4 linked regions of the Homo sapiens genome follow. The protein of the gene in region 4 interacts with the protein of the main gene of each other region in a pairwise test. Each region holds a gene or a part of one and is shown on either strand. Other genes may lie near its edges. The genes, in order: VWC2, NR4A3, ZNF837 and VASN.

The links.
Region 1: the proteins of VASN (region 4) and VWC2 interact in binary tests that used the Homo sapiens proteins (3 or more experiments, as listed by UniProt).
Region 2: the proteins of VASN (region 4) and NR4A3 interact in binary tests that used the Homo sapiens proteins (3 or more experiments, as listed by UniProt).
Region 3: the proteins of VASN (region 4) and ZNF837 interact in binary tests that used the Homo sapiens proteins (3 or more experiments, as listed by UniProt).

Annotation. Positions count from the first base shown.
Region 1 is NC_000007.14:49,797,612-49,804,645, reverse strand, and holds part of VWC2 (brorin precursor), read right to left. Parts: intron 1,936-7,034; coding exon 1,806-1,935; intron 1-1,805. UniProt on the Homo sapiens protein: BMP antagonist which may play a role in neural development. Promotes cell adhesion.
Region 2 is NC_000009.12:99,824,851-99,831,884, reverse strand, and holds part of NR4A3 (nuclear receptor subfamily 4 group A member 3), read right to left. Parts: intron 6,227-7,034; 5' UTR 6,053-6,226; intron 5,156-6,052; exon of another isoform or gene 5,115-5,155; coding exon of another isoform or gene 5,084-5,114; intron 4,538-5,083; exon of another isoform or gene 4,419-4,537; intron 3,845-4,418; coding exon of another isoform or gene 3,843-3,844; coding exon 2,892-3,842; intron 1-2,891. UniProt on the Homo sapiens protein: Transcriptional activator that binds to regulatory elements in promoter regions in a cell- and response element (target)-specific manner.
Region 3 is NC_000019.10:58,367,094-58,371,035, forward strand, and holds the end of ZNF837 (zinc finger protein 837), read right to left. Parts: intron 2,836-3,942; 5' UTR 2,726-2,835; exon of another isoform or gene 2,624-2,725; intron 2,269-2,623; 5' UTR 2,240-2,268; coding exon 644-2,239; 3' UTR 530-643; downstream 1-529. UniProt on the Homo sapiens protein: May be involved in transcriptional regulation.
Region 4 is NC_000016.10:4,374,841-4,381,874, reverse strand, and holds part of VASN (vasorin precursor), read right to left. Parts: intron 1,007-7,034; 5' UTR 998-1,006; coding exon 1-997. UniProt on the Homo sapiens protein: May act as an inhibitor of TGF-beta signaling.

The sequences.
Region 1 (7,034 bases), on a different chromosome or scaffold from region 4:
AAATCCAGGGGTTGAAATCCTGTCTTCTCACCTATTGTTAACACTCAAGCTAGGATTCCCGGCTATCTAATGCCAAGACTTAGTCTATAATCAAAATTTACAGGAAAAACATGGAATATCTTGGGTAGTTAAGACGCCAAATATTTAAGCAACCCATATTTAAGCCATTCACTAAACCCCTTGACGCAGTGAGAGTTGTTGTCGTCCAGTACCCCCGACATGCAGGGCACATGGCCTGAGCGCCAGCCCTCAGCTCTCCCAGCAGACCAGAGGCGCTCACTCGGGCTCCTCAGCGGGTGTGCTGAAAGCCACACCGAGACTCTGCCAGATTCTCCATCTGCCTCTCCTTCCCCAATCCCAGAGTCTTCTTCCCCCTTTATTAGTGTTAATTAGTGGTAATTAACACTAGTAGAGTAAACTGTATTGATTTCCCTCCATCTCACAGCTGGTGTCTCAACATCATTTTTTTTTTTAAAAAAAAAACACACTCCATGCTCAAAGTCCCCCTCGTTCTTGTCTAATGGAATCCTACCTCAGGATTTCTTCATAATTAACATGCACAAGAGACCAGCCAACCCTATATAAAGTACACTCTGTGACATCTTTGTTTTAACACTGTCCACTTGCCTTTGGAGGACTGGATGTACTATGCTACAATGATTATGACATTCCTAACACAGTCATCTTGTTCTTTCAGGTCTATCCTTCAACAGCAACATCATTCCCTCTTCCAATTATTTACCTCAAGAGTTTTACAATGTGTTGTAGTAAAATCTGGATATGTACAGGTACGTGGTCGAAGGTACCCATGGAACCTCATGGCCCGCACAATTTCGACTGTCATGACAGACTCTGGGAATTGTCTGAGCACCATGACCACCCCTGTGTCACCATCCACCAACACATGCCTGCCACATACCAAACCCATGCCACACAGCTATCAAGCCTCGGTCCAGCAACCCACATGAACGGCCGACAGCATCACAAGTTAGCTCTGAATGCTCTCAACCAGGGGTCCCCACAGCATACCCTGGGCAACATCCAGAAAGCCCAGTCGCTCCTGTCAGCGAGGCCACTCAGATCCTTGTAGACTCCGGCTGTGTCCCCTCTGTCCGCTGTTTCCCAAGCTCTGCTCAGCCTCTTGTCAAACTGCCCTCCGGGCCATAATTCTCAGGCCCAGCCAGCCTGGGTATGCACTCTTGTCAAAAACCGTCTTATAGTGTAATGCCCTCAGTACCTCAGGTACAGAGTAATCATCGTTTGTCAGGATGAGGAAACACTCTCCCATGACAAATTAGGATCAAGGACATCCTGCCACTTCATTTTCATAAAGTAAGCAAGGCTTCTGATCTACCAGGGGCTCTCACTGGGAATAGGAAGGGACTCTCTTCCTGCCTAATTTGCTTATGAAAAATATTCAATTATGTTCCAAGTTTCATTCACTTAGTAATGAAAAGTAAATGAGCCCAACCAGTGTGTTTAATGTGTCTTGGAAAGATAGAAACAGCTTTGCAAGAACAAACAAAGTTAAATTAAAATAAGTGACTCTCCTCAAAGGTGGAAATTGAATTTCTCCCCAAAGAACTTCTTAACATCCATAAAACATGGTGCTGATGCCAGTAAGAGAGAGAAGGCCTTGCTACAGAACCACTGTGGCTGAAAGATTACACACGTGTGTACGCATGTGTATTGATACATAGGATGAAACTCACGTATCCGTATGTGTCCCGTCTACCATGAAGCAGCACATGGGTTGTGCATCAGGGTGGGAGGTGCACCCCGTCACCAACGGGGATCTCACATACCATTTTTGCAGATGGGACAGCACTGATCAGGCTCGTACACAGGGTCCACACACTCCGTCTGGGGACACGCTGACACTGTGCATAGCACCTCACCGTTGGCTTCACAGCGACACCTCTCGCATGGAGACACCTGAAACACAAGCCCACAATCAGCACTTTAGCCTGCTGTCATGTTTATCCTACAGGGTCATATATATTTTTTTGAAATGGAGTCTCGCTCTGTCGCTCACACTGGAGTGCAGTGGTGCGATCTCGGCTCACCGCAACCTCTGTTTCCCGAGTTCAAGCGATTCTGCTGCCTCAGCCTCCTGAGTAGCTGGGATTACAGGCACCCACCACTATGCCTGGCTAATTTATGTGTTTTTTATAGAGATGGGGTTTAACCATGTTGGCCAGGCTGGTCTTGAACTCCTGACCTCAAGTGATCTGCCCGCCTCAGCCTCCCAAAGTGCTGGGATTACAGGAGTGAGCCTGGCCCTACAGGGTCATACTTTTCTTTCCCTAAACTTTCTGCGAAGACACCTAAGTGTTTTAGGAATGTTTAAAAAATGATCCAGCCCAGTGGTTTTCAGAGTGTGGACACAGGCATGCTGGGTGTTTGGTGAGTTGTCTTAGGTGCAAACGCACAGGACGGGCCACAGGGCTATGATGTTCCCTCTCCTGTCCAGCCAGAGCCACTGTTTAATTTGTGGTCTGCATATTGGGTTTCTTATTAAACTTTTTTTTGAAGAAATGTTTTTCATCTCTTTAAAAATTAAACAAATAAAAACTTGCTGCTGAGTTCTTGCCCATCCCCTCACCACGTAGGTGAATCCCTTGTCTATAACCCTGTCAAGTCACCACCCAGACTCACATGGAACACTCCCAGTGTTTCCAGTTACGAAGACACTGGAATAGGAAAGGGGAAAGGGGTGAAGGAGGAGAAACAGGGTGGCATCCAAGCGGGGCCAAGGGCCGGGAGCTCTATGAATATTCCCTCACTGAACTTTTACAGCAGCGCTAAAATACACGTACTCAAATTACTGACCCTTTGTACTAACAGGAAACTGAGACTCAGAGGTGTTAGGCAACATGCCATGGGCATGTCTGTCCTGTGAGCACAAGGTCCTCTTCCACTGAGGGCTCCTGACTGCGAGTCCATGGTGATTCCAATTTCCTCCAGGTCATTCTGCCCACTATCCAGCATCACGATGCTCTGTTAGAAACCAAGCTTCCATTTGCCTCTCTCTACTTTCCAGCCATGGGCTCATACTCTGCCTTCTTGAGCTATCCAAATCAAGCATACCAGCCATTCCCAAGAAAGCTGTACGTGGCTAACGGGACCCTCCATGGTCACTCACACAGGGCATGGTGATTTATCTCCTGGTTACCACCAATGGAGTGATTTTTGATCTGGCTGACCCAGGACAAAGCAGGAAGAGCATATGCAGACCCAGCCATCAGAAGCAAAACTGGGAAGTGGGGATACTCACTAGAAAGACCATGGAAATGGGGGACATGGAAATGGGTCGTATCAAGCTGAGTTCCTGCTTTGCCAGGGGCAGGGAGACCCCAGTTGAGTTGTGTGCCCCACGTCCATGATACAAATACCGCTTGTAAGGTAAAGAACATGAGTAACTCTCACAGATGCTCCCTTTGTCTATACAATGCAAACACTAAAAACTGAAATCTCCACTGAGTGGACTGGCTATTACGAGAAGCAAAAGCTCAACTGGAGTTTAACCATGTCTCTTTCTGAGGCACTAGACCACAGTCAACCTGCCTGGGAGTGAGGGCTAAGGAGTGTGTGTATGTGTACTTGGCCAAAAAAATGTAAAAAAGAAAGGAAACTTTGAAAAACTTTAGTGTAGCCTGAGACAAAACACTGACCTGGTTGGCAATGTAGCCTTAGAAGTTAAAATCAATCTTGAAGTAATATAAAGGCCTGTTTTTGAGATGAGTTTCTTTTGTTGTTGTTGGCACAATTAGGTTTTTTTTTTTTTTTTTTTTTTTGCTACCATAACCAGTGGTGCTCTTTATTGTTGCTGTCATCATTGTGGGTCTCATTTCCTTGTCTCCTACCAATTCCCTCATTCAGTCTGTAGCATTTTTGTCTCAAGGGGGATATATACATAGCAAGCAGAATGAGAACAGAATTCTGAGTTTTAAAAGCCAAGACCTTGAGTTGCAAGAGACATGGTTTATTGCATGTCAGAAGCCTTCAGCTGGAAGGACTCAGAGCATAAGCCCTCAAGCCCAGGTGGTGTGGATTACATGATGGAGAGCCAGAACACCCTGCCCCAGGGGAGGGGAGCACCATCCCCCTATAGAGATCAGGATAGTCAGCAAGGAGCAAGCGGGTCAGATAGTGAGGTCTGTCCTCACGAAGCAGCACAACGTGGCATCTACTCCTCACCTAGGCATACACCAGGGAGGGAATAAAAAGCACCATTTCCATTTGGGAATTTAAAAGAAGGCCAGAGCACACCCTATGTCATATCGCCGGGGAGGGCCCTGGAATACAGCAGGACCAGAGATAAAGGTCCAACTGCAACGTCAAAAAGGCTCCAGGTCCTTAGGCAGCAGGCGCTGAATCAGCCTCGTCCAGCAGCTTTCTGCATGAAGGTGCACACCTTGGCAAATGGAGCAGAGATCACTGGCCTGGAAAAAAAACACTTCTTACTGCCACTGGAGCTGAAATTTCATTGAATCCATGCCACAGAATACTGCTTAAAGGCATGCACACAGGCCAGCATGCTATTTTCTCAAAGGTTTTGTAGCTTTGTAAAAAATTTGATTGTCAGTTATATTGTCATTAAATATTTAGAAATCCTGATTCAGCCGCACTCATGTGCCCCATAACTGGGTCAAAAAGGAACTGCATATACGACGTGGTCCCATGGATTACAATGTCTTATTTTTACATATCTTTTCTATGTTTAGATACAAAAATACCATGTGTTATAACTGCTTACAGTTTTCAGGACAGTAACGTGCTGTGCAGGTTTGCAGCTTGGGAGCAATAGGCTATACCATATAACCTAGGTGTGTAATAGGATATACCATATAACCTAGGTGTGTAATAAATAGGCTACACCATCTAGATTTGTGTAAGTTCACTTTATGATGTTCACACAATGATAAAATCACCTAAGGATGCATTTCTCAGAATGCTTCCCTGTCATTTAGTGATGCATGATTGTATTTGGAGATTTGTTCACTTCTAAAAAATCAGAGTTGATGCTTAGAATTAGGATCGCCAATCAGGCCTCACCTCCTACCACCTACATCTGCCTTCACCAGCACCCATGCTGGGCTCCTATGTACTCCCATCCCAGGTTTGGGCCTGCCTCAATTCCCAGAGGAAGTGAGGCTGGTGACAGCAAGTGGCAAAGCTGTGTGAGTCCCTCAGATGCCAGCCAGGTGCCCTGCTAGTTCTGCCTGGGCAGAAGCCCTCAAGCTGGTCACCGGCCCTGAAGTCAGAGTTTCTCATCTGATAGGGACATTCCGGGACCCCTACCCAGGATCCAGGTCACATAAAAGAACCCTGCCTTCACTTGGTTTATGTTCCCATCTCCTGCAGGCGGGCTGTCCTAGGCCTGAGGCAGTTCCAATCCTAACCCATGAACCCACCTTCCAGTAAAACCTTCTTGCCTCACCATCTCAGACCACCTGCTGGGCCACTGGGCCACTTGCCAGTGTTGGGCCCTGATCACTGATCAGACTTCACCCAACTAAGCAGGTGTGCCCAGACTCAACAGATGAAAATAATGCCCTGCCCTTTTCAGCCATGCCAACCCCCTGAGCCCACTCCGCCATGCTCCTCGTTTGGTGAAGCAGTGGCCTATGCCCCCTCAATGCTGTCCTGTCTCGCTGGCTCACATTTGATAAGCTCCTACCTGTCATGGATCCAGCTCAAACGTGGCCTCCTCTGCAGAGCCATCTTTGATACCAACCTGGATGAAAATGGGCACTTTCCCTCCATTAAGACATCACTTGAGCTCAAACCTAGGCCTTGCACAGCCCTCATGTAAGGAAGGGAATGTTGTTAAAGTAGCAAAATAAAACAAACACAAACCCCAATGCCCACGTGAACTCAGCAGCCAGCTGAGGAAGATGCAGCCTCACTACATCAGGGAGGAAAAGCCACCACTGAACTCCACACGAGTCCTCCAGGGACATCTGACAGAGACCCAGCTGGATTCAGGCCAGCTCTTCCCTACACTGGCTCCAGTCCCTACACTGCCTAAGGACCCTCATTCCAACACAGGGCTCTGTTTGGTGCCCCAGGATGGCCACTGTACACTCATAAAAGCAGCTTCCTGCTCAGAGTCCTCCAGGACAATGTGCTAGTGCCTTCCACCTCCTGAGATACAGAGAGGCTGCCAAGGAGCAGATGGAAGCTGCAGCCGTGGCTCCAGCCGTGGGTTCTAGCTTTGACATGAGGCTTTAATCCCCAGTCATCAGGGCCAATCTGGCATTCTGGGTCACAGTGACCCTCTTTTAGGCTCATTTCACCAACCCATAGCTGGATCCCCACTGGCGTGGTCAGCAGGCCCAGGCAGCTGACCCAAATGTCTAGGAGTGAGGTGAAAGATTTGCCTGTCCCTTGACCTGGTCAGATACCAAGCTGCTGCTCTGACTGTAAGCACCCACCAAGCTGATGGTTCCCCACGTGCCAACTCAAGCACCATGGGCCTTTTGCCAGGCTGTGCTCTTTGTCCCACATGGAAACTAAAGGTAAGATGCCGAGCACATCATTTACTCTGCAACCAGCAGCAGGAACTTCCATGCACATTTTTTCCGATCAGATGACACAAACTTTTCTCCTCTTCTAAAGTTATCATTTTCCCAGAAGAAACTTAACTAGGGACAACCTAAGTTTAAAGCATTAGTACTTCTTATTAGCAAATCACCACCTACATTTTACATAGAATACCTTATGGCAGAAATGTCATTCTTCACAATCTTCCAAGTTTTGCATGGATAGAATTTAGATGTGTAGCCTGGAGAAACAGTTGGGCATTTGAGAAAAGAATTCATTCTCAAGGCCCCTATTGTGTGCCAGGAGTAGGGAAAAATTTGTTGGATCCAAAGAACATGGTTTCTTGGGATTGGGAGTGAGAATGAAGACATTCTCTATGTGTTCATTTATTCATTCCAGTCCTGAGGCTAGAGAGATGAATACTACTTATACCATTTTTCAGGAAGGTGAGAATACAGATAACAGCAGGGGTTGGTAAGGAAAAT
Region 2 (7,034 bases), on a different chromosome or scaffold from region 4:
CATAAAACTTAAGGTTGGATAGAAAAATGATGTTGTATTTTTCAGAATCCATATAATTTGGAAATGACACATGGAGAAATAAACATATTTCGTCCTCCAAATTTAAACAAATGCTTGCTTTTTAAATTGAAAACATTTGTGCAAATGAACGTATTTTTACCACTTAGGGTGAAACTGTTCAGAAATTACCTGGATCTATACAACTCCAAATAGAGCAGAAAGTTGAAATTTATTTGGGAAGCCTGGGCTGCATTAATAAAAAAAGAAAATAAATCCAGGTAACTTGGGCTTTATGATCTATTTTGTGTTCAAACATCTAGATTTGCTTTTTAACATTTACTTCCAGTCATTCTCAACCCCCATGTTTCAGTTTTACCCTGTTACCTTTTAATTTCATTTTAGGGGATAGTTTCTAGATTGCTTATATAAAACTTAATATAACAAAGCCAACCTATGTCAAGTCTAAGACATGTTTCTCCCACCATAGTAGGTGATTTTAGTTTAAAATGCAAAATTCTGAAACACAGGCATACTTCTGAGGTTCCAGCATTTAAATTCTTAGCAGTCTGTAAGGGTAGGAAACGTGTGTTTCCTGAATAAAGCTTTCATTGAACATGCAGTAATTTCTAACACTCTATTTCTTGCCATCATCCTCAAGGCTTTATGCCAATTTGAGTGCTGATGGCATTTTGCTTCAGGTATACATTTTCCCAATAACCTGAAGCCTTCCCTACATTTGTGTTTAAGGACAGGGAGAGATCATTATGGTTCAATCACCGAATTCCTATCATTAACTGCACTTCATGTCACATTTTTAAAGAACTCAATTTAATGGTAGAAAGCCACTGGGTAAAACCTGCTCCGGTTCCCTTAATTAACAGTTCTGTGGGGTGATTCTCCCCCATCTTGCCCCCACCCTTTCAAGTATAGATTTGTTTTCGAGGGATTGCTGCAGAAAAGAGAAGCTGTTGGGGAACACTTAATTGACATTTCTGGACTCAGAATGTATTACCACTCTGGTATTTTGGTCAACTCTCCATTATTTAGAGATAATTATATTTGTAGATTATTCATAATTCTTGTTTTTTTCTTTCCCCCTTTCTGCTGCCAGTTTCACTGTCCTTCAGCATTTTCCACTGAAATCCTGTAAAAATCAAATCTGCTAAAGGAATGCAGTTACTTGAAAGTAGCTCTGATAAAGCTTGAGTAGTTAAAACAAAAAATGGCCAAACTCAGTGGCTAAAAAATAAAATAAAATGACCAAGATTCTGCATTTAAAACATCATAATCCCAAATATCTGTAGGGCACTTAACGTATTGCAGTCTTTCCCCAAACATTTTCTCATTTCTCTGCAGAATTCAGGTAGTGATATTTACAATCTGAAGATCAAAAATAATTGTTGCTTGTTGCTATGTATATCCCTCCACAAATGTGCATTTTTACAAAACTTTATAGCTTTTGTTTAATAATGAACTATCTGTACAGCTCTTTAAAGATTATAAAGCACTTTCATATATATTTTTATCTCATTGAATACACAGCTCTTCTCTGAGTTTTATTCATTGATAGGGAAACAGGCTTAGAATGAAGTGTCATGCCCAACATGATACAATTGGAAGGTGGAAGATCAAGGTCTTCTATTTGAGTCTTCTCTCACTAATTCTGGTGTACTCCCAGATATATCCTATTGGCCTCCCAAATCCAAGTTACCCAGTCAGCATCCTGCTTTCTCTTTCTTTCTACCCTGTCCAGCACTAGAGGATAAGGAATAATTTGTGTGGGTTTGTAAATGACTGAAATAATGGCCAGTGGGGTGAGGAGTGAGAAGGATGGCACAGAAGTAAGTGTCTGATAAAGTCTGGGAGTCAACAGCAAAAGGTAGCACAGCAAAAGAGCAAGGTCTTTTCCCTAAGTGGCAGAAATAACACTGAACTCAGGAGTCAGGACAAATCAGCTGGAAACATCTCATGGGCAGTTAAATCACTGCTTACAGCCTGCATAAGGCTTCACCGCTCCAGGCCTCAGCTTCCTCGTGGGTAAAATATGGGGGAGGCTGATGGCCCTCCCACTGTAAAATTTCTCCGTTAGGCCTATGAGGGAATGAATTATGTCTACACCTGGCACCGCATGTGATACAGAGGTAGGGAAAGGTTCCTAGAGGACACAAGACCCCAAGTTCTATCTTCTATGGAAAGAGGCAGCTCTTTCCATAGAAGAAGACAGTTGTCCCTGTCTCCTAGAGCTGCAGAGCTGTGAAAAGGGAATGGACTTTGGGGTCACGCAAACGTGGGTTGGCATCCTGCCTCCATCTCCCTTCTCTGAAGGTGTGTCCTGAGGCAGCTGATTAACCTCTTCAAACCTCAACATCCTCATCTACAAAACAAAGAAAATTAAAACACTGTTTTAAAACACTGTTACTAAAAATAGCTAGTGAGTGGCCAGAATTCAATCTTAGATGTGTCTGACTCTAGAGCCCCAGCTCTTACTGTAAGGATTAAATGAGACACAAATGTCCAGGGCTTGGTACGCACACACTATCCCCTCAGACACCCTGGATGGACAGACAAAGCAATGAGGTTTTTGCATTTTCGAAGTCACAGGTCCTTTTAAGACTCTGCTGAAAGCTCTCCAGAAAAATGTTCATAGGGCAGTGTCAGGCCAGGAGGTTCACGGACCCCCGGAGTCCGTCTGGGGTGGCCTGCTGCACATGGACCTCAGTAGAAAGCCCCTGAGAAAATGGATGTGAAGGTGCTAGGAAGGGCTGTAGGAAAGCATGATGTGCCGATTACAGCTCTCAAACCGGGAAGAACAAGGATGCTCCTACACTCACTTAGAAGCTCCCTTCAGTGAGGGGGCTGGGTGCGGAGGGGAGGGGGCGGCGTGCGCTCACCTTGAAAAAGCCCTTGCAGCCCTCGCAGGTTCGCACGCCGTAGTGCTGGCAGGCGGCGTTGTCCCCGCACACGGCACACGTGCCCTCGCCAGACGACGAGCTCCTGCTGGGCGGCGACGGCAGGCTGGGACTCTCGCCCAGCAGGCTGGACGCGGTAGGGGAGGGCGTGAGGCCGAGAGGCGGGAAGGCCAGCGGGGCCGCCCTCTTGGCCAGCGGCAGCCCGTACGGGTGGCTCTCAAGCGCGGCGGCCTGGCTGCCCGCGGCGGCTGCGGCTCCCAGCGGCAGGCTGAGCGCGGCAGCGGCCGTCGGGTCGTAGCCGAGGTGGTGGCCGCCGGCCGGGCTGGGCGCGGGGGGATGCGGCGGCGAGGGCTTGAAGTGGAAGAGCGGGAAGCGCGCGCCGGCCACCGTGGGGACCGCCTTCATCGGCGGGTCCAGCAGCGGGCCGGGTGCGATGCAGCCGGGCGCCGAGGGCAGTGCCTCGTCCCATAACGCCCCCGCCTGCGGGGGGAAGGCCGGCGTGGTGGGGGTGGACGGTGGGGACTGCTTGAAGTACATGGAGGTGCTGGGCAGCACCTCGTCCTCCGGGCTGGAGGCTGGAGGAATGGATGGCTGCTGATGCTGCTGCTGGTGATGGTGGTGGTGGTGGTGGTGGTGGTGGTGATGGTGATGGTAGCTGGGCGCCCGCCCCTCCTCCACTTTGATCAAGGGCCGCTGCATTTGGTACACGCAGGAAGGCTTGAGTTCGTAGTTGCTCGAGTAGCCCTCCACGAAGGTACTGATGCTGGGCAGGGACGTGGTGGCTGTAGCCGTGATCTCAGTGCTGCCAAGGTCCATGGTCAGCTTGGTGTAGTCGGGGTTCATGATCTCCGTGGTGTATTCCGAGCTGTATGTCTGCGCCGCATAACTGGAACCTGGAGGGGAAGGGCTATATTGGGCTTGGACGCAGGGCATATCTGCAGGGACAGAGAAAAGGGTCTCTCAGAAGCAAGTTAACACTTGTTTTCTAGCCAACAGGCAGCATTGGGTTCACTGTTCTCTAATCTGGGAAACAGAGAGGAAGTGTCATCCTCTCCTCCTTCTGGTAGCATAGACACAAAGCCCCACACTTATTTTCTTCATCCCTAGTAAGGAAGCTGAATTCCTGACAAAGGGGTGCCAAAACCTGGCCTCCTGTGGACTCCTGTACCTATCTTTCCTCCCTTGCCCTGTCCTCCACTAGATTTGGGAAACTTGAAGTCTTTCCTCATAAGCTCAGAGATGTTTTTAAAAAGAGGCTTTGAATCCTATAAACTAATTGGAGTGGGCTCCTCAGCTATAACCTAGGGGGACAAAGAGAAAGCCAGTGGTTTATTTGGGAGGAAAGAGGCCATTGGTCCCCCAAGGCATACACATTGATTTGTAAACCTGAGTTAGGCAAGAAAAACTACCCTGTGAGAGATTTAGTGGCCAAGGGAGAGAGTTGACATTCTAACATTTTATGAGTGCCAATTGAGGTTGCCCACACACGTTGTGGTTGCTTTCTCCCACCTCATCCCCACTCTTCCAATAGGGCTAGCAGCCTGCACAAACTGGACCCCTGTTGATAACTTCAGTCAGCTAGGTGGGGACATAGGCCCAGGAAATTGACTCGGGAGAGTTTGTACCATCTGCAAAGAAAAAGATCAGCAGCTGCAACAAAACACCCACCCATATATATATATATACACACACACACACACACACACACACACACACATATATATATCCCAATTCTAACTAATAAAACATATCAGTGACTGTTTTGTGATAACAGTTTATAACTATCATAATAGGCAAGTTAGTATAGGTATTTCCTTATGACACTAGAATTAGTACCCATGAAAAAAAGCAGTTTCTCAATAGACTTGATTTCTCTGCCAGTTTGACTATGTTGCCCCCAAAGTGGCTGGTATCCAGGGTGCTTACTATTGTTCAGAGAGGCTGAACTGAGTGAGAAGGCGCTGAGAATTATTGGATGTAGTGGATGATTTATCTAATTATTTTTCTTTCTTTATGGCTAAATATAAATGGTAAAAAACGGCGGTTTTTGGTGGTTGGTTTTTCTGAGCCAAAGGAAAACCAGGTGCTTAACGCCTCTTTGGAGTCTATGGTGTAAAAGGTGTGACTAATAGAGAAGTGAATACTTCACATTTCCTTTGACATCTTTCTCTTACCCACATTTCCAAATCTGATTGAGTCATGCATGTATGGGATGAAATCTTGACTTGAAAAAAGGTGATGAGGGCCTGTTGGAAGAAGCAGTGATGAGGAGAGGCCAGTTCAAGCCTTTCTTTAACAAGCAGGGCCTTAAAAATACACTCACTAGTTTGAAGTCCAGTTACTTATCTTGCTGTCCAGTTGTTGGGATGAAATGAAAGGCTAATCATTTAAAAGAAAGAACACTGCCTGATCTTTGATCTATTCTCCTTCTCCCTTCAGCACCTCTAGGATTTCTCCATTACTCTTTTCTGTCATTCTTTCCGGCCAATCCCTTTTTACTGCTCTTATTTGTGTCTTTCTGAGGTTTCTAGCTAGAAGATGAGCTTGCTGGGATTGTATTCTATTTATCTGCATTATCTATGGTGCCCACACAGGCTTGGCACCTAGTATTCCTTTAACAAATTTGTAAAGAGGTGGTACAAACCAAAAGTGCAATCTGTTCTTTTGCCAAACTCAAATTTACTCTTTGGTTTTCATCTCAAATGCTTTTCTCCTTCCCTCTGAGCTTCAATCATCCAAACTTCTGCACCCAAATGATTTGGGTTTTATATAAATGAAAATGCTCAGTATTGCTCTAAGTGATTCCATAACTCTTACATGTGCACACTGGCTATAAAAGAAGAGCAAAAATGAAATTAAAAATGTATAAAATACCCTAATCTATTGGTGTATTTGTATTTCTCTTAGGAAAATTAATTTTGAGCAATGCAAGCTTAATTTAATTTGGCTGCTCCACTCAGTAGCAACAGGGTGTGGTATACAGAGGAGCTTCCTGTGAGGAAGCCACCTGTGTTGTGAAATTCGCGGCCAGCAGTCACTGTCCTGGCACTGGGCAGGTCGACCACGCTGCCCGCCGAGTGTGTGGTTCCCCCACCCACTTCCCTCAGCCAGGGAGGAGAAAAGGGTCTTGCCTTCGGACCTACCTGGAGGGTATCTTGCGCGCTGAATGGTGGGGCTGGGGGTCTCTCCAGCGGAGGCTGAGAGTGTAGGAGGAGCGGACGTCCGGCGAGGCGAAGCGCCGGCAGTGCTGCCCGGCACCGCTAAGGGTCCAGGCTCAGGGCCCGGGCTTGCCGGGCTGCCCTCTTCCGCAGTGGGCTCTACAGGCAAGGTGAAAGAGGACATAGGTCACAGTGAGACCAGGATGGGTCACTACGGCCCGGGCTGGGCGCATTGGGGACTGGGGGAATTGGTTGGCAACCTCTAGAAATGTTACATTAATTACAAAGAATTATCGTAAAATTAAGGGTGATTAATGGTACAGGAGTCCCCCTGGGCAAGAAGCATCACACGGCCTCGGGGAAGCCGAGGAAAGGTTGTTGGAACCCACTGCGCCTACCACCGTTTTGTGGCACCAAAACCGAGGCTAAAAAAAAAACGCGCAGCCTGTTATTGCCCAGAAATTGATCTCTCTGCCCCCACAATTGATTCCGAGCTTACGAAGTCAGGAAAACCAAAGAAAGCAGAACACTTGAGGAACGAGCTCCGCCCGAATACGGGGGGTCAGTGAGTGTTCACCAGCGGAAAAAAGCCATTTTCCAGCTCCGCCCGCCCCCACCCCTCAAATACAAATTTTACACGTTGCATAGGAAATGCACAAGGTCCGGAACGAATGCATGAATGCCCCGAGGAATTAAGAAAGTCTGCGCTTTTCATTCTAAATGCTAATGGAGCTTCGCTTCTATTAGCCGCGAGTTTCGAGGGCCAGGGGTCAAGCAAACAAAAGGGCACAGCGATGAGAAGGCTGGCGCTGGAAGCAAGGGGACGAAGCGGACGGCGTTAGCGGCTGATGGGACGAGCGGAGGCAGGTCCCCTGCACCCAGAGGGCGGTGTCTTCGAGGGTGGGCGGCTTGGAGGCTCCTGGCCACCCAGCGGCCTAGCGGGGGCACATTCCTGAGGGCGCCGAGC
Region 3 (3,942 bases), on a different chromosome or scaffold from region 4:
TTCAGTCTGGAGTCCAGCGGGGGGCGACAATAAAGGCGACCCCGCTCGTCAGTCAGACCAGGGCAAGCTTGCCAGGGCTTCACACTTCACCAAAGGGAACCCTTTCTGCCGCGACTACCGAGCTGCCAGGGCCGGGACAGGCAGAAGCCTGCCCCGAGGTCTCACCTCTGGAGGGTTACGAGCTGTGCCAGGCCGGCTACGGTAGAGGGTGTGCAAATACCCCGCGGTCCCAAGGCTCCTGAAGCTGCCTAAGGGATATGAGAGACCCTAGGTTCGAATCCTGCCTCCATCGTCTTATGTTCGTGCCTCAGGAGAGTCACTTTGCCCCGTTTCCTCGCATACCAGAGAGCCCAGTAACACGCTCCGCGGCTCTGCGGAGAAAAAGACCCTAGAGATCGTGGACACAGCGTCTGGGCCGTATCAGCGCCCACTCGAGATTATTACTGCTTATGCCTGCAACCGGATGCTGTGCGCCCGGTTAGAAAAGGTCAAATAAAACTCGAGTTAGGGGAAGCCTGTGGACGCCATGTGTACAAAGTGAAGTTTAATCAAAGTTACAAACGTTGGTGGGTTTTCCGGGACAAAGGCCCCTCCTCGACGCAGGGTTCGCTTGGGCGACGCGTCGACTCTCGGCTCCCTGCAGTCAAGGCGCGGCGCGGCCCCCGTGCCGCTTCCGGTGCTCGTTGAGGTTGGAGCGTTGGCTGAAGGCGCGGCCGCAATCTCCGCACGCGTAGGGCCGCTCGCCCGTGTGCGTGCGCAGGTGGCGCACCAGGCTGCAGTTGCGCACGAAGGCCTTGCCGCAGTCGCGGCAGATGTAGGGCTTCTCGCCCGAGTGCAGGCGCTCGTGCTGGCGCAGCTCGGAGCAGCCGCGGAAGGTCTTTCCGCACTCGGAGCAGCCATAGGGCCGCTCGCCGGTGTGCGCGCGCTGGTGTTGCACCAGGCCCGAGCGGCCCTTGAAGGCCTTTTCGCACAGTGGGCACGCGTAGGGCTTGGCGCTGCTGTGAGTGCGCTGGTGCCGGCTCAGGTTCGAGCGCTGGTTGAAGGCCTTGCCGCACTCGGGGCACGCGTAGGGCTTCTCGCCGGTGTGCACGCGCCGGTGCTCCACGAGGTGCGAGAACAGCCCGAAGGCCTTGGCGCAGTCGGCGCACTCGTACGGCTTCTCCCCGGCTCCCGACCCCCGTCGGGGACTCCGCTCGCTGTAGTCCCCGCAGGGCGGGCACCCCAGCCGGAAGGCGCGCCGCGCCAGGACGGGGCCACGCCGGTGGCGCTCGGCCGAGTGCGTCTTCTGGTGGCGGTACAGGCCGGAGCAGCGCACGAAGGCCTTGCCGCACTCGGCGCACTCGTAGGGCCGCTCGCCCGTGTGGATGCGCTGGTGCTGCAGCAGGCTGGAGGTGCGCGTGAAGGCCTTGCCGCACTCGTCGCAAGCGTACAGTCGCTGGGCCGGGGGGTCGGGGACAATAGGGCGAGGTCGCGAGGTTTGGCCGCACTCAGGACACACTGGGGGACTCTTGCCCGCCTGCTGCTGCTGGTTGGGGCGGAAGCGCTTCCCGCACCGGGCACACGGACGGGGCTCCTCCGTCGCCTGCAGCCTCTCCTGGGGGATCCGCAGGGCCCTCCACGCAAAGGCCTCGCCGCACGCGCAAGCCCGGGGCTGCTCCACCAAGGGGTTCCTCCCGCGGGAGGTCGGCTTTGGGGTCCTCGGGCAGGTCGGAGCGCCAGTCCCTGGTTGGCACGGCCAACAGTCCGTGTGGACCTCACACAGTTGAGTCCGGGGGTGGTTCTGGATCCGCTCCGGACAGGGGTCACACACGGGTGGCGTCTCCCCAGCGGGCGCCCCGCGATGCCACGCCAGGCAGGAGTTCCTGCTGCAGTCCCCGCCACGCGCTGGGCTCCTACAGGGGCCCTCCCGGGCTTGCAGCCCCTCGGGGATAACCAGCTCAGGGTTCTGAGAAGAGGTGGGGCCGCACGGCTCCCGCACGAGGGGTCTGGTCCCGGCGCTGTGCCGGGTCCCCGGGCCGGGGCTCACCCCGAGGCTGCAGCCCCGGGAGCCCCCGCCTGGGGGAGTCGTCCTACCGCCCGCCGCTCCACGCAGGTCCCCCTTTTGAGTGGGGCGGCTCCCAGCTCGGTCCTCTTCGAGGGGCCTCGGCTCCTCGGGCCTCTTCTCCCGGGCCCCGGAGGCACCCTGGGCATCGGCCTTGGGGAGTCCTCCCTGCCCAGCCTTCTGGGCTGGAGCCTCCATCCTGGGGCGCAGAGTTCTGGTTGTAGGATCTGGAAGAGCAGAGAAGAAATGGAGGTTGGCGGTTCCCAGGAGGAGAGAAGTGGAGAACTGGGCCAACGAGCGACCACCCCACAGCTGGCACCTACTGGGCGGCCCCCAGCTCTCTGCAGATGCGAAAGGGTAAATGGAGTGACATAGGCAGCCCGTCCTGCCCCTCTTCAAATTGTCACCACCCAGACCCCAGAGAACAGCTTCCCAGGCTCTGCCTGCCCGCCATCACCGTTCCTCCCCAACACTAGCTCCTAAAACACTGTGCCCCTGGCTAAGGCCCTCCCTGGTCCCCCTTCCCCAAGCAACAGGGACTCCCCCGTTGCTCAGCTGCCAGCTCCCCAAAATCTCACTTACTCCTGCCCTCCGTTTCTCAGTGGCAAGCCGACACTCCGGGTCCTCCTGGCTCCATTCACTGCCATTGTCCATGTCTTCTGAGAGGTGTGAGGTGAGACTCACCTGACAGCTGAGAGCCTGGCCGGGAGATCCACGCTGCAGAGGCCAATGCTGGACTTCCCCTCCCCTCTTCAACCAGGTAACGGTGGTGCTCTCAAGGCTGGCAGCCTCATCTACAAAATGGGTATGATAACGGTAAGTATAACCAGCTGAGTAGGGAGACAGGCAGCCCAGATCATTCAAGCAAGTGTGAACATTAGCAACGCCTGGCGCCTGCTATTACTATTTTAAAATTACACTGTGGCTGTATTAGTTATCTATTGTTAAAGCTGCTTTAACAAACTGCCACCCCATAGTGGCTTGAGACAGTGCAAACTTGTTATCTCAGAGTTCTGGAGGTCGTAAGTCCTAAGTGAAGGTTTCAGTAGTGTGGGTTCCTTCCAGAAGCTCTTGGGGAGGACGTTTGCTGACCATTTCCAGCTTCTAGGTGCCACCTACTTTTCTTTCTTCCATCTTCAAGCCAGCAGTAAGACATGTTCATCTCTCTCTTTCTGGGTTTGTTGTCAAATCTCCTTATACTCCTTATAGGATTCTGACCCTTCTGCCTCTTGTGATCACACTAGGCCAACCACACATAATCCAGGAATCTCCCCATCTCAAGATCCAAAACTTCATCACACTCAGTTCTTTTGCCTTGTGAAGTAACATAGTCAGAGGTTCTAGGAAACAGGACGTGCAGATCTTTCAGGGGGCCATTATTCTGCTTACAACAGTGGACTTTGCTGAGATACACACACGTGCATATATAAATATTCATCTCCTAAGCAAGCAATTGAATAGCAAGTGAAAACAAAGGACGGCCGGGCACGGTAGCTCACGCCTGTAATCCCAGCACTTTGGGAGGCCGAGGCAGATGGATCACCTGAGGTCAGGAGTTTGAGACCAGCCTGACCAACATAGAGAAACCCCGTCTCTACTAAAAATACAAAATTAGCCAGGCATGGTGGTGCGTGCCTGTAATCCCAGCTACTCAGGAGGCTAAAGCAAGAGAATCACTTGAACCCGGGAGATGGAGGTTGCAGTTAGCCGAGATCGCACCATTGCACTCCAGCCTGGGCAACAAAAGTGAAACTCTTTCAAAAAAAGAAAAGGAAAAAAAGAAAAGAGAGAGAGAGGGAGGGAGGGGTGAAGGCCGGGGGGGGGGAGCCGGGCGCGGTGGCTCACGCCTGTAATCCCAGCACTTTGGGAGGCCTAGGTGGGCAGATCACGAGGTCAGGAGA
Region 4 (7,034 bases):
TGGGCGGGAAGTGGCAGCGCGTCTCCTCAGGGCTGGCCAGTGTGACGTGGCTCTCGCGCACCCAGGGGCCAAACCAGCTCAGGGGGCACACGCAGTTGAAGGGGTTGCGGGCAGCTGCCAGCAGCCGCAGGCGGGGGAAGAGGCCCGAGAGGTCGCCAGGCAGGGCCTGCAGGCTTAGGTTGCTCACATCCAGCTCCTGCAGGGCAGCCAGGCCGGCCAGGTCCTCGGGCCGCAGCTGGGCAATGCGGGTGTTGCCGGCCAGCCGCAGGCGCGTCAGGCCCCGGAGGCCTCGGATCACAGGTGGCACTCGCTCCAGCTGGTTGTCGGACACATCCAGGTCGTGGAGGTTGCGCAAGCGGCTGAAGAGCCCCTCGTCCAGCTGCTGCAGCCCCAGACCAGCCAGCCGCAGCGCCTCCACGTTGGCAGTGTCCAGGATGCCGGGCTCCAGGGCCAGGAGGCTGTTGTGGCTGAGGTCCAGCAGCAGCAGGCGGGGCAGGCGCAGCGGGGGCAGTGCCCGCAGCTCGTTGTCCTGCAGCTTGAGCTCCAGGAGGCGGTCGAGCGTGTCGAAGGCACCAGGCTGGATGTGGCGGATGCGGTTCTTGCCCAGGTAGAGGCGCTCGAGGCGCCGCAGGCCACGGAAGGTCTCATTGGTGATTTCATGCAGCCTGTTGGCTGTCAGGTCCAGGTTGCTGAGGTTGGCGAGTGGCTGGAAGACCCCGCTGGGCAGGCTGGCGATCTGGTTCTGTGACAGGTCCAGGAGCTGCAGGCCCGGCAGGCCGGCAAAGCTGCCTGCGTCGAGCATGGTGATGCCGTTCTCAAAGACGTACAGCCCCACCGTGTCGGGTGGCACGTCTCGGGGCACCGTGGTCCCCTGGCGGGCAGTGCAGAAGACTGTCTGTGGCTGGCTGCACTGGCAGCCGGATGGGCAGCCCTGCACCCCAGGCCCCAGGGCCAGTAGCAGGAGCAGCGGCAGCAGCAGAGGGACCCTGGAGCACATCTTCTGTCCCTGGGAGCAGAGAGGAGGCAGAGACAGAAGACTGTGAGTCAGGGGCCTAGAAGGCAGACACGCCAGGAAGAGCCAGAGGGAATTCACTGCTTCTGCCCCCAAATGCAAGAGAACCCAATGGTTATGAGTCAGGTCGCCAGTGCCCCGACCCAGGTTCTGTCCCAGCCCCGTCACTCCCTCACTGTGTGACCTTGTCAATGCACACAGAGGTCATCATGGGGCATGACATCCACTGAACGTGCAGTGACCATGCACTGCTTCCTCCTGAACCCCAGGCCCTCCTGCCTCTGCCTAGGTAGGTTCCCCCATCCCCTGCCTCAGAGATGGACCAGGAAGGAGAGAATGGTGGGACTTGGAGCGGCAGCTCCTCCCTACAGGGTCTGGAAGAGGGGGCAGGCAGGCAGCTGGGTGGGTGTGTAAGCAGAGAAGCTGGCTGCCTTGGCCGCCGGCTCCTGCTGCCACGCTCCGTGTCCCGCCCTCCTTGGAGGAGGGAATGCAGCGGGAAGACTTCACATGGAAACTATGGGATCCATGTTTTTCCACTTGGGCAGTCAGACCTGCTTAGGCTGGGGGCTGCGGGCCGCCAGGAAGTGGCCGGCGGGAAGGTTCCTGGAGGAGGGGCAGAGGCCACAGGCATTGGCAGGTGTCCCCTGTGAGGGAGGGAGGCGGGGAGCTGAGGCTGGTGACAGAGCTGGAGCTGGGGGGCCACAGGGCTCAGGTGGGGACACTGGCTACATGGCAGCCCCAGGGGCAGTGCCAGGCCTGGGAAAACTCTGCAGAGTCATTCATCTACTTTTTTTTTTTTTTTTTTGAGACGGAGTCTTGCTCTGTCACCCAAGCTGGAGTGCAGTGGCGAGATCTCGGCTCACTGCAACCTCTGCCTCCCAGGTTCAAGCAATTCTCCTGCCTCAGCCTCCCATGTAGCTGGGACTACAGGTGCCAGCCACCATGCATGGCTAATTTTTGTATTTTTTTTTTTTTTTTTTTTAGTAGAGACAGGGTTTCACCATGTTGGTCAGGTTGGTCTGGAACTCCTGACCTCAGGTGATCTGCCCGCCTCAGCCTCCAAAAGTGCTGGGATTACAGGCATGAGCCACCGTGCCCGGCTTCGTCTACTGTTTCTTGGGGTCTGCCCTGAGCTGGGCACCAAGAAAGATGAGCAGCAGCCATCCCCTTGGCAGTGATGGTGCAAGTCCTTCCCATGTGCCAGCGAAGTGGGAAGGACGAAGGAACACTAAGTGTTTACCGTCACCTCAGGTAGCCCCCCAGCAGCCACGTCAGGGCAGACAGAAGAAAGCAGGGCTCATGGAGGTGCAGGGACTCGCTGCCATTGCGGTGCCAGCAAGTCCGAGCTAGAGCCCAGGTGTGCAGCAGCCACCTGTGAAGGGTGCGTGCCCTCCAGATGGCCCTGGGGGCGGGGGCTCCCACCAGCCGCTCCAGGCTCCAGATCTTAGCTGCACTGCCCAAGTCAGGCAGGTCTGTGGCTGGCCCCCATCACCTAGACTCCTGGGGAGACCGCTGGGGCCGTCCCCAGGAAGAGCCCTCCCCACTTTGGCACCCCTAGAAGTCCCTGAGCCTCATACGGGGTGCCAGCCCATCCCCAGGAAGCATCCTGCCCAGTGGCGCCTGCAGCTCACACAAGAGCCCTTTGTGCTGGAGTCCGGGCTTCCCCTTCCCCCACACAGGCTGTGCAGGTAGTCCAGGGAACACGACCCCGACCCAGCCTGCACTCCGCCCCAGGCTGGGGGGACCCGTCCATAGGGCTCCCTCTCCCCCAGGTACGTGGGTTCCTGGAATGTGAGGAGGAGCAGGTGGTCCCAGGACAGATTAGACAAGTCACTGGTGAGGTGACCACTGGGGTCTGCGGGTAGCTCGAGGTGAAGGAAGAAGCCCTTGTCCCCGGGGTTGGGCCCACGCAGGCCCTGCCCACGTGTAGTATCGCACTGCCAGAGTCGTCTCCCCTAGGAGCTACCGACCCTGAGCCCCTAGCCAGTTAGCGACAACAAGCACCCTTCAGAGGCCAGCAGGCTAAGCCTCCCCAACCTAGCGGTGTCCCCCTTGCTGTCGTGTGCCCCCTCACCTCCCTAAGGTGAGACCCAGCCTGCCTTTGCCATAGGTGTCTCCAGGCCCACTTAGCTCAGGTCTGCTGAGTGAACAGCCCAGGAGGGCCTGGCACTGAGCACTGGAAGAAGTTAGCACCCCAAACCCCAGGCACGCGTCCCTGGCCCGGCCAGCCCACCCCAGGGGGGCTCGTGTCTGATGACCTAAGGCCCTGGGGCCACACCCCTAGCCTTCTCTTCCCCCATGGGACCCGCTCCACCCTCACTGACTCAGAGGACGGCGGGTGCGGCCTGGCCTCCAGATGTGGGCTGTGAGTGACCCCCACCCACCCCATGTCCATATGGGGGGTGAGGCCACCTCTGCCTGAATTAGCCCTCCCAGCAGGGCCAGACCAGGGTCAGGAAGGATGCAGCCAGGTTCCAGAGTGGGAGGGGATCCTCCACGTGGCCAGCCTGGCCAGCCTGGCCACCACTGTGGCCGCAGCTCCCCTTGGGCCTCGTTTAAGGTCACAGTTAAGAGCGCTCACTCCAGGCAGGCGGCCCTGTGCTCAGAGGTGTCCAAGCTGTGAGGCCGCAGACAGTGACTTTGCTCTCACACCTCGGTTTCTTCATCTGAGTATCTGGGACACTTCAGGGCTGCAGTGGGGGATGCATGTGGAGTCCTCAGCCCTGCAAGGCCAGGTGTGCAGGCCAGCTCTTAGGGGCACGTGCTGGGGGGTGCTCTTCACCCTGCACTGGGGAGGGGGACCAGCCATAGCTCTGGGCTCCGTAATCTGTTGGGTCTTTAATCAGCAAGGTTGTGAAGGGAGAGGGGATGCTGTGGGTCCATCTGGCCACAGGGTGGCTTTCCGGCTGACAGGTAGTGAGCTGTGGAATGTGCGTTCCTGTTAGCAGGACAGGGGTCTAGGTCAGGACTGTGGGCTGGGGTCCTGGGCTGACCATCCAGCAGGCGGCAGCCAGCCTGCTTCCCAGCCCCGTAAAATGTGCGGTGAGCTCTTTTGCCTGAGCCCCAATTCTACCCCCACATCAAAGGGAGGAGGGAGGAGGCAGCGCTGGAGCTTTGGAAAACCCCAGAGTTTGTAAGCTACAGGCTGGCAGCTCTGAGGGCACCGCCAGGGACTCCTGGCACTGAGAACCCATCAGCCAGCCCCGAGAGGAACCCAGCGAGGGAAGGCTGACTGTGGAGGGGACGGTGGCAGGGGACAGAGGCCAGAGTTCCTTTCTCAACTGTGGGCCTCAGTTTCTCACCTCTGGAGTTGGTGCAAGCAGCCCTGCCCCCTCACCCTCTGGAGTTGTAGTTTTCTGTTGTTCTGTTTGTTTTCAAATGGGGAAGTTCTTTTAACAAGTTCTGGGAGCTGTCCCGCCCGCCTGGGGTCTGGGCGTGTGCTTGGTGTGTGCGTGGGGCTGGGGGCTGTCTACAGGTCACACGGTGGTTGCCGCCGCCCACCCACCCTCCCACCCGGTGATCCCAGGACCTGGGCTTTGATATTTGATCACTAGTCAGGCAGGGAGGTGAGACCTTTTCCTCTGCCTGGTGCAGGAGGTGTTCCGGAGGCAGCCCTGGGATTCCTGGGATTCGGGGACGTCGGGGGGTGGGAAGATGACGCAAGGGTCTGGGGCCTCCGTCCTCCACCCAAGTTCCTCAGCCTTGCTGAGTGCTGCTGCCGGCCTTGCTCCCTCCCTGGCACAGTAACTGGCATAGGGCGACAGGGTCCACAGCCCGGCCACGACCCCTACCTCAGCCCCCATTGTGCAGTGGGCGCTGCTCGTGGTGCTCGTGGTGCCTGTGTCTGGGGTGACTTGGTCTGTGCTCGGAGCACTTGCCAAGTGGTCGGTAAACATTCACTGCGGAGGGCGTCACTCATAAACGCAGAACTCTGCCTGCCCCCTGGGCGTGGGTACTACTAAGGGAGAGGGTTTCAGGCCAGCTTTACACAGATCAGACATCCCCACACCAAGGCTGCCCTTCACCCTGGGGGCTGGGGAGCGGGGGTGGGGTATCTCTGGTTCTGGAAGGGGGCACGTGGTGGGTGAGCTGTCCCTTGGCGGCCCCTTCAGCACAGGACTTCAGGGAGGGGCCCTATGAGTAAGGAGGACAAGGCACTCGTCATCTCAACTCCCAGGGGGACGCCCACCCACCTCTGGGGTACACCACACACGCCCAGGGTCAGGCGGGGACGGGCCAGGGGATAGCATGGCTGGGGTGGGACCCAGGCATCTGGTGACCACATCAGCCCCTGGCGAGAACATCTCACTGATTCTGGGGCAGGCGGTGTGCCTGCTGAGTAGGGGACAGGCTTGGACAGACAGATAGACAGTCTGAGGCCAGTACGCCCCTCCTGTGCCGTATGCTTCAGCGTGGGTGCAGGACAGGCGCTGCAGGTCTGACCCTGAGACTCCGGGCCCCCGCTCCTCATGCTGGCCCGCCAAGGCTCTGTGTGGCCGGTCAGGCCTGGCAGCAGCCCAGCCCCGGGAGTCTGCCAACCCCTCCAGGCAGGCGGGACTGTGCCGGCGGCCAGGACGGCTGGCTCCAGTTTCGCTGACGTGTCCGAGGAGGCTCAGGGCCCGGCTGGGTCCGCCCCGTCTCCCCTTCCTTGGGACACAGCAGTCCCAAGGGCAGGGCAGAGAGGTCAGGGGTCGTGGGCCCTCACAGAAGGGGCAGAGAGGGCTGGGCCTCGAGTTCCTCAGGGACTGCGGCAGGTAGACCCTCCCTATAGGCGCGGGGACCCCTGGCTGGTGATTGAGCGGGGGTCCCCATGGGTGTCAGCCTCTTTCTTACTCCATCCACCACCCCAAGCTGGCGCTCTTCATTCCACAGATAATGCCACAGCCAGGAGCTCAGTCAGGCACTCACACGCTTTGTGACCTCATCCAAGCAAGCTCCCCTCTCTGGGCTTCCGTCTCCCACCTGTGACGCCAGGGCTTTGCCCGCCGGGCTGCACATCAGAATCATCCAGGAAGCTTTCTAAAAAAAACCTCCATGCTGGGGCCCCACCCCCAGGCCAATTAAACAAGAAATTCTGCCGGGCATGGTGGCTCACGCCTGTAATCCCAGTACTTTGGGAGGCCGAGGTAGGACGATCACGAGGTCAGGAGATCGAGACCATCCTGGCTAACATGGTGAAACCCCGTCTCTACTAAAAATACAAAAAAATTAGCCAGGCCTGGTGGCAGGCGCCTGTAGTCCCAGCTACTTGGGAGGCTGAGGCAGGAGAATGGTGTGAACCTGGGAGGCGGAGCTTGCAGTGAGCCAATATTGCGCCACTGCACTCCAGCCTGGGTGACAGAGCAATACTCCATCTCAAAAACAAAAAGAATGTCTAGGAGTGAGACCCAGGCAGAGCTGTATTTTGGAGAAGCTCCTTGAGCGAGTCCTCCGCACAGCCAGGGTTCAGAACACCAGGACAGAGGGTTGCAAAGGGGACAGTCAGGATGTCAGCTCGTCTTCCTGTGCAGGGAGGAGGCTCTGTATCCTGGAGCAGGTGTGGACCAGCTGGCAGGGCTGGGAGAGGGGCAGGCACAGGGTCTTCCCTCCTCCCTCCACCCAGGAGGCTGGCCCGGCCCCAGGTGGGTGCCTTCAGTAGCACCGTGGGTGACTTGGCAGCTGCCAGACCTGTTAGCCCAGGGCAGGGAGACCAGTGACTAAGGCCAGGCCCCAGCTCAAGTGAGCCCCTGGGGCGGTGGGACGTGCCATCGTAGTCACAAGAGGTGCAACCTGTCAGGGAGGACACCTGTGGCCCTGGGAGCTGTGCAGTGGCTGCAGCCCAACTAGAAATGGGCCAGTCCAGATGCCACTTTCGGCACGCGGCAGGTGTGATGCCACCAGGGCTGGGCCCTCACACGGGGCCTCCTCACTGCCCTGTCCCCACCCAGGGGCAAGCACCCATCTAGTAAGGCCCTAACCTGCAATTAACCCTGAACTTGCCAGAAGAACACCTTAGTCACCAAGGAAGGCCGCCAGCCCTAAG